Regions from separate parts of the Homo sapiens genome. Here region 1 is linked to region 2. The links come from fine-mapping of genetic effects on gene expression. A gene starts in region 2. The other region holds a variant in brackets. All regions are shown on one strand. Distances are between the middles of the regions.

Evidence for each region. PIP is the estimated chance that this variant, and not a neighbour inherited with it, causes the effect.
Region 1: its variant is the best candidate, but not a certain one, in a credible set for the expression of CD5 in skeletal muscle (GTEx, PIP 0.84).

Annotation. Positions count from the first base shown.
Region 1 is chr11:61,123,585-61,127,972 of GRCh38, reverse strand. It overlaps CD5 (CD5 molecule), which reads right to left. Exons shown (of 11, transcript NM_014207.4): 8 at 4,036-4,089; 9 at 2,822-2,941; 10 at 2,132-2,222; 11 at 121-1,685. The coding sequence ends at 2,134. Among named protein-coding and RNA genes, the nearest start is that of CD5, 23 kb to the right of the region's middle. The variant G/C (reference allele first, on the strand shown) is at 1,814.
Region 2 is chr11:61,100,332-61,104,719 of GRCh38, reverse strand. CD5 (CD5 molecule) reads right to left here and starts at 2,231. Exons shown (of 11, transcript NM_014207.4): 1 at 2,105-2,231. The coding sequence starts at 2,159.

The DNA.
Region 1 (4,388 bases), 23 kb before region 2:
GAACTTGACAATGGCACGTTGAAGACTAAAGTGCTTCTATTCCATCGCATCACCAAACATCTTTTTGAAATGCATCACCCAAGTCAGCCAACCCTTGAAAAACAGTTTTCTAAAGGCTCATTTCTCCTCAACTAAACTCTTTATTTTTGGTTTGGTTTTTAAGTAGGCCATGGTTGCTTTGAGGCCACTGTATGGTGGCCAAACTATAGATGAAAGAGCTTTTATTAAAAAAGGCACTGATGGGAGACACTGGCTGCCCCCGAACCTTTGCCCTCCCTAAGAGCAGCCTCTCAGTTCCCTTTTGAGGAGCCCCCTCACCTCCACCAGATATGGGAAGACAAATGGGGTCCCTGTTTCTGGATTCCCAGCATGGTCGGGGGAAGATCTGTGACCTGGGCTTGGCCACGGGGGCTCTCAGAAGGCAAGGCCTGGTTGGAGGGTGTTGGTGGGGGCAGAAAGCTGAGCAGATTCTGGGAGCAGCCCACCCCATATCCTAGTAACTCCCTTTTGCTCTTCCAGACTTATTATGCGGCTTGGACCATTGATGCCTGTGCTCCCAGGAGATACAGCATCAAATGGCGTGGAGAAAGGACCTGTCTTAGGATGTGTTCCCATGTTGCTTCACCTTCTTAGGGAGCCGCCGCAGTGAGCTGCGCCTGGCCTCTCCCTTGATCAGACCCGAGGCTCCTGGGTAGACCTCCTCTTCTCACTTGCAGTTAAGGAAGCCGAGGCCCCATGGGATTAGGTGTACGTCCAAGATCTCCAAGTACTAGAGGAGTCTGTTTTCGTCAAGGGAGTTATTCAAACCAAAGGAACATGACCAGCCCCATCTCTGACTCTTGGGTTAGAAGATGAACTGTGATGGACTGAAACTACCTCAGCTTGGGACTTTTAATTGCTGGGTGAAGCAAAAAACCAAGTTGGTTAAGGTTTACTAGGCGCCCCTTTGTGCCGGGCCCTGGGTGGCACTGGTGCCCTGTGGGCTTGACAGCCAGTGGAAAGGAAGGTGTCTTTAGATGAGGGGGTTGGGGAGGGGAGTCATAAGACAGAGGGAGTGGGGTGACGCTGTGGGTCAGGGTGGTGCCCACCCAGACCCCTGGCTGGCAGCTGCGGTGAATGTGCAGAGCTGTCTTTGTGCTCAGGTGAGCAGCCTCTGACCACCACGGCTGCAGAGGTCTCCGGGAGTCCCCTTCCTGTCCTCCCCAGAGGGATCCGCAGGGGTGGATGCTGCACAGAAGAGGCCAAAGCGCTCGATTTGTCAGGAAGGAGGAAAAGCACTACTTACAAAAAACTATTCAAAATGCACTCGCCCAGCTGTGAGCTTCCTTGTCACTCCTTACCAGGGACAGAGTCTGAGGAGAAAGCCGATTTCACTGAGACGCCGCTCCCCAGCGGGCAGGGAAAGGGGGCCCCCTTCAGACACCCCCGAGTCTCTAGTTGGAAGGCTGCTTGTTTTGGGGCTCTGCCCACCACAGCTTCCACAAGTGGAGGGGCGGCCGAGCTGTTGTGCAGCAGAGTGTGAGCTGGCCTGCCACTCGGGGCAGCAGCGCCTGTCCGGAAGGCTTCTGGCCTCTGTCCATGTTCTGGCCGGGGTAGAAATAGGGACATGATTTCAAGTGAAGAGCGGACAGTTTTCTCAGGACAAACAGGTCTGGCTCTCGGCTTTTTGCTCATGGATCCCAGTTCTGTGGGGTGAGAAGGAAACGTGTTAGAGGAAGACACCGCAGAGGTGATGCAGGGAGGTCGGGGACAGGACCCATGCTCTGGGCTCCATCTTGGGGACGGCTGCTGTCCTGAGCCAGGGGCTCCTTCT[G/C]CCCGCTGGCAGGTTGGCAGCTCTAGAGGGGTGTGACTCCATCACGGAGCTCTTAGGGACTCTGCCTGTGTGGCCTTCCGAATGGAGTTTAAGAGTTGATTGTTAAAGTTCATGATTGCTCTGCTCTAATTGTCAAATCAGCTCGTATAACCTAAACAGCTGACGTTTGTCTTTCCCTTTACAAGAATCAAGATGCTGGGGGTCCCCTATTCATGTATGGGCAGGGTGGGACTGAGGGGAGGCATTGAGTGGCTGCTGCTCACCCCCAGGACTGTGGGGGACCCTGGGGTGCTGGGGTCAGGCTGGAGACGGGCTCACCTTTACAGCCTCTGAGCCCCATGCAGATCATAGTCACTGTCGGAGGAGTTGTCAGGCTGCATGGAGGAGCGATGCAGAGCCCCTTCCAGAGCTGGGGAAAGAAAGGACGCTGTTTGCAGAGGGTTTTTGACTCCACAGAGCCCCTTGGATCCTAGAGCCGCTGCCCACAGTGGGTTGGAAGATCACAGGGGCTTTATGAGCCGGTGACAACCCCTTATCTGTTTTGATCAAATCAGCCAAACGTTCACTAATGATGCTGAACTCCAGGCTCCCTGGGGCTTAATTGGTAGTGCCAGTCTGGGAGCCTTTAGTACAGCGCTCCTGCAGCCCACTTAATGGCTCTCTTCTAGCCCGGAGGAATCCAAGGGGCCTCATTTACCATCCAGGCCCCTCAAGGCCCTGAAGGGAAACAGGCCCATTAGGTCACAGCAAGGCTGGGGTTGATGGCTTTCTGAGTGCATTCTTCTCTCCAGATGAGTAGTTTGTGGTCTCAAACGGGACAGCTGGGGCCTGCAAAGGCTATATCCCTTCCGTACCCCTGCTGCATCCTGCGATGTTTGATCCCCTTGCACCCTGGGGTCTCCATTCTGTCTTTGGGCCATCACCCGACCTTCAAGGGCATCACGTGACCTGCCTTGGCGGCCTGCTGCAGCCCTGCCTGCGTGCCTGGGAGCACCCGCTGGTGCTTACCTGGATAAGCTGACAGGTGGGAGTTCCTGGGAGGTTGGCTGTATTCGTTATCCACGTGGGAGGCTGTGGGGTTCTCAGCATGGGATCGGACGGTTGCCGTGTGGTTGCGATGGAAAGACACTGGGCAGATGGTAGGAGACAGTGTCAGACTTGTGGCTGTGTCCTCCGTCTCCTTCCCCAGCAGGTGCCCAGAACTTTAATCTCCTATTCCCATGATGTTAGCGGGGAGAGGACAAAGGCACCCACAGCCCCTTCAATGCATCCCCCTCTCCTTTCTTCCTGGGAGGTTCATGCTAGCAGGATCAGCAGCAGACTTTTAGAGCAGGTTTGGGTAACCCAGCAATCTGACTGGCAGGGTGGGGCCTTCCGTGAGTCGGTCATCAAGCATTTACCAAGCAGGAGACTGGAGCACAGGTGACGGGACAGATCTGCTCCCTGCCCTCCAGGAGCTGAGGGCCTGTATGTTATTAAGAAAGTTTCCAGAGCCTTTCTTAATAACAAATTCAACAGAGCCCTCTTGAAGGATTTGGCTGTGGACTTGGGAAGGGGGAAGAAGGCAGAATGGGAGGCAGGAAGAGCGCCATGTCTCCATCCATTAGGGTGTCTCTGACTGTGGCTGGAAGGAGGGAGGATGAAGACCAGGGATGGTGTTGGGCTGGCTGCACCAAAATGTCCTAATACTGGCCCTGTAAGTTGTTCCATGATGAAAATAACTTGGACAGCCCTTCTTAATGGATCCTTGCTTTGGAGATGGGCAATACAAAAATGCCCATTAAGGTTCTGATAAGTCCTGAAATAGCTATGCTTAGCTGTGCCTAACTCATGGTTTTCCAGATCTGTTGATCAGGGAGGCCTCTTGTGAGTGCTGCCTGTTAACATCCACTGGCTACTGTGTTGGGGAATACTGCTGGAGGAGGTGAGGGCTGCTGGGGACCCTAGAGATGGGGCGAGGGACAGAAAGGATACCATGAGATGTTTCTACACTCTGAGGCTTCAGCGGTAGAAACCGCTCAGCCATCAGCCCATCAAGAAGCCTCCGCCCTCCCTGGTGTGGGGACGTCTGTTGGCCACAGTCACATGTCAGACAAGCACCGTGGAGATCAGAGGCTTCAAGCAGCCACAGGCTCCGTCTGTGGTCAGCAGAGAGCCTCGACTCTGCCTCCATGGCCTCTGTCCAGGGCCTGAGGGAGGCTCCTGCCTCCGGGGACACTTACTGTTTTGGTTCATTCCCGTTGGGCCAATCCACTGGCGCTGCTTCTTCTGGCGGACTGGGCAAGAGACAAGAAAGGCACATCAGAGTGGTGGGGGCAGGTATGGGTGGGGGCAGGCAGGGGTGGGGATGGGGCTGGGCCTGGGAGGGAGATGGTGGCGGCAGGTGCAGCTGAGGGCAGGGCTGCTGGGCTCTGCCCCCTGGAGTCTCTCGTAGGCCTCAGTTTCCTAACTTGCTCGGGAAGGGAATTGCAGCCATCCTGTGCCGAAGGAGCAGGCCGAGGATGGTGTAGAGGTGCCCGGCTCCCCAGGAGAAAAGACCACAGGCGTTTAGAACTAGACCTGGGCAGGCACTAGG
Region 2 (4,388 bases):
GCTTTAAAAGTGCTTTGTAAACCGTTACCCACTGAACAAAGGGAATGCTTGGTACCCACCGGCTCACTCAGACACTGGGAACTGAGTATTCCTGGGGTTCAAGGAGGTCCCCATACTGGGGTGAAGGGGCTACCTCCAAGTCTTCCTGACTGTGGCCTGTGTTGGGCCAGGGGACTTGCCTGGTGCCATCAGGAGCCTCACCCATGATGGGATTCAGTTGGGAGGGCCCTAGAGCAGGACACGGGTTCCCATACTCAGCTGGGAGCCGCCCTATCTCAATGAAGTCTGAGGCCAGAGGTGAGGAGCAGGTGGGGGGTTTAAGGGCCTGGTCCCTCCTTAGCAGGGTCCCTGAAGCCAGCCAGAGGTCTGTCTCAGGCCTCTTACTTTGGGACAGAAGGCATTTTGTACCTGTTGTTGTTACATGTGAGAAGAACCATGTGAACATGTGTGCACAGGTGCCATTGTCACATGTGTTGGGGAGATAATCCTGCCTTTGGAGGCCGCATTGTGCTCATGAAAGCACACACACACAGTTCTCACACACATGCGCACAGACTCCCACACACAGACTCACACACAGACTCACACACAGACTCACACATTCCCCCCACACAGTACTCACACACATGCCCAGAGACTCACACACAGACTCACACACAGACTCACACATTCCCCCATACACAGTTCTCACACACATGAACACAGACTCACACACAGACTCACACGCACAGACTCACACTTTCCCCCCCACAAAATACTCACACACATGCCCAGAGACTCACACACAGAGTCACACATTCCCCCCCCACACACAGTACTCACACACATGCCCAGAGACTCACACACAGACTCACACACAGACTCACACATTCCCCCCCACACAGTACTCACACACATGCCCAGAGACTCACACACAGACTCACACATTCCCCCCCAGACAGTACTCACACACATGCCCAGAGACTCACACACAGACTCACACACAGACTCACACATTCCCCTACACACAGTACTCACACACATGCCCAGAGACTCACACACAGACTCACACACAGAGTCACACATTACCCCCCAACACAGTTCTCACACACGTACACACAGACTCACACAGACACACATAGACTCACACATTCCCCCACACACAGTTCTCACACACATGCACACAGACACACACACATGCATTCCCCCACACTCACACCTGCACACCCGGTTTCCCTAGAAGGCTGCTGAGGCTCCCTGCTCAGGCAGGCAAGGCCTCCGGACCCTCTCCCTGCCAGCCTGGAAGCTGCTCGCATCCTCCTGTTTCCAGCCCAGAGTCACGCACCTCTGTCACCCTGCCAGACCTTCTAAATCCTCAGGAAGTGGGTCAGGCCTCATCCAGTTCACACCCCCAACCCCCACATTTCATAAATGGGGAGATCAAGGCCTGGAGAGGCTTGGGGACCTATCCGAGGTCACACAGGGTTGGGCTTACAACCCAGGGCTGGAGTGAGAGCAGGCCCAGCGTGTACTCATCCCAGCCGGCCTGGCTGGGCCCCTCTGGGACTGACCCAGGACTGGGCATGAGAGGGCCTAGGACTTCCGCTATGAGTCCTTGACATTTGCTCAGACATCGTCCTCAGAGGCGGCTCCACCCTGCCTCGGCCCACTGTCTGTCCAGAGCATCATCAGAGCTGCCTCGGAGACGGCGAGTTTCCATGTCTCTGGAGGCGACCAAGTAAAGGCTGGGCTGTCAGTGGGGGACCTCGCAGAGGGAGGCCTGAATGCTCTGCTAAAATCCAACTCAGCCTAGGAATCAAGTTGTCTGGGCCCCATCAAATGCGGGTCCCCCCTGCAGTCTCTCTTGCACTGGAAGGGTAAAGCAGGGTTCTCAACAGCGCATGAGAGAGGCAAGGTTGTGCTCCTGGCGGGTGGGACATGCAGGACAGAGGGCCAAGCTGCGGCTTAGTGGGGGCAGGCAGGGATCCCAGTGGCCCCAAATCTCCACAACGCTCCAGAGGGCTGACATGTGGATCCCAGAGTCAGCCTTGGGTAAAACTGGGAACTCCTTCCTTGCACTGGAGCGAGCCCGGGTGTTCGCAGGACACCTGGGAGGGGTACTCACCCAGCATCCCCAGCAGGTACAAGGTGGCCAGCGGTTGCAGAGACCCCATGGGCATGGTTTCTGGCCTTCTCTTGCCTCAGCCTGGGCAGCTGGGCACCGCAGGTGAGGGTGTCTGGCCGGGTATCTCGCTCTCAGAGAGGGAGAGGGCGGGGTGGCGTGCTCAGGGAGGGGTGGGACGGGGAGCAGGCAGTGTGGGGCCTGCGTCACCCATGTTTGAAGTTGAACTGTCAACTTCCTCCTGGCAAAACCACCTGCCCCTGTTTGAATGGCAGCCCTGGCCTCTGCCAGCTTCCTGCCCAAGGTACCCAGGGCTGGGGCAGTGCTCTCGGCCACCCCCACACAGGACAAGGCCATGCATCCTGGAGGGACAGGGCTGCAGGGGGTGGGGACCCTGAGCGGGGGTTACGGAGGCTGAAGGCCTGGCTGCAGCTGAGGGCTGGGCTGAGGACAGGCGTCCCTGAGGCAGGGGTCTGGGTGGGGAGAGGCGGGAAATGGGCAGCATGATGCCAGTTCTTGTTGCAGACTCCAGTGAAAGCCAAAACCAAACCCTCCATTCCCCCTTTGTGAGGGATGAGGTTGGAAGTTTGAGCTGACTTTCCACAGGTGGTGTTTTGCTAGCAAGTACAAGAGATGGCTGCGCCATGAATGCTGGGCTTGTGCCAGTGTGTGTGTGTGTGTGTGTGTGTGTGTGTGTGTGTGTGTGTAGAGAGAGAGAGATCTCCATGTTGACTTGTGTGATCTCTGTGTTGTGTGTGTCATCTCTGTGTTGTGTGATCTCCATGTTGAGGTGTATGTGTGAGCTCCATGTTGAGTGTGTGTGATCTCCATGTTGATGTGTGTGTGAACTCCATGTTGATGTGTGTGTAATCTCCATGTTGACGTGTGTGATTTCTGTGTTGTGTGTGATCTCCATGTTGATGTGTGTGATTGTGATCGCCATGTTGATGTGTGTGTGATCTCCATGTTGATGTGTGTGTGTGATCTCCATGTTGATATGTGTGTGTGATTTCCATGTTGTGTGTTTGTGATTTCCATGTTGATGTGTGTGTATGATCTCCATGTTGACTTGTGTGATCTCTGTGTTGTGTGTGTGATCTCCATGTTGGGGTTGATGTGTGTGTAATCCCCATTTGATATATGTGTGTGTGATCTCCATGTTTGTGTGTGTGAATGTGATCTCCATGTTGATGTGTGTGAATGTGATCTCCATGTTGACGTGTGTGTGTGATCTCCATGTTGATGTGTGTGTGTGATCTCCATGTTGATGTGTGTGAATGTGATCTCCATGTTGATGTGTGTGTAATCTCCATGTTGATGTGTGTGTGTGATCTCCATGTTGATGTGTGTTTGTGATCTCCATGTTGATGTGTGTGAATGTGATCTCCATGTTGATGTGTGTGTGATCTCCATGTTGATGTGTGTGTGTGATCTCCATGTGGATGAGTGTGTGATCTCCATGTTGATGTGTGTGTAATCTCCATGTTGATGTGTGTGTGTGATCTCCATGTTGTGTGTGTGTGATCTCCATGTTGATGTGTGCGAATGTGATCTCCATGTTGATGTGTGTGTAATCTCCATGTTGATGTGTGTGTGTGATCTCCATGTTGATGTGTGTGTGTGATCTCCATGTTGATGTGTGTGAATGTGATCTCCATGTTGATGTGTGTGTAATCTCCATGTTGATGTGTGTGTGTGATCTCCATGTTGATGTGTGTGTGATCTCCATGTTGATGTGTGTGTGATCTCCATGTTGATGTGTGTGAATGTGATCTCCATGTTGATGTGTGTGTAATCTCCATGTTGATGTGTGTGTGTGATCTCCATGTTGATGTGTGTTTGTGATCTCCATGTTGATGTGTGTGAATGTGATCTCCATGTTGATGTGTGTGTGTGATCTCCATGTTGATGTGTGTTTGTGATCTCCATGTTGATGTGTGTGAATGTGATCTCCATGTTGATGTGTGTGTAATCTCCATGTTGATGTGTGTGTGTGATCTCCATGTTGTGTGTGTGATCTCCATGTTGATGTGTGTGTGATCTCCATGTTGATGTGTGTGTGTGATCTCCATGTTTATGTGTGTGAATGTGATCTCCATGTTGATATGTGTGAATGTGATCTCCATGTTGTGTGTGTAATCTCCATGTTGATGTGTGTGTGTAATCTCCATGTTGTGTGTGTGTGATCTCCATGTTGATGTGTGTGAATGTGATCTCCATGTTGATGTGTGTGTGTGATCTCCATGTTGATGTGTGTGAGTGATCTCCATGTTGATGTGTGTGTGTG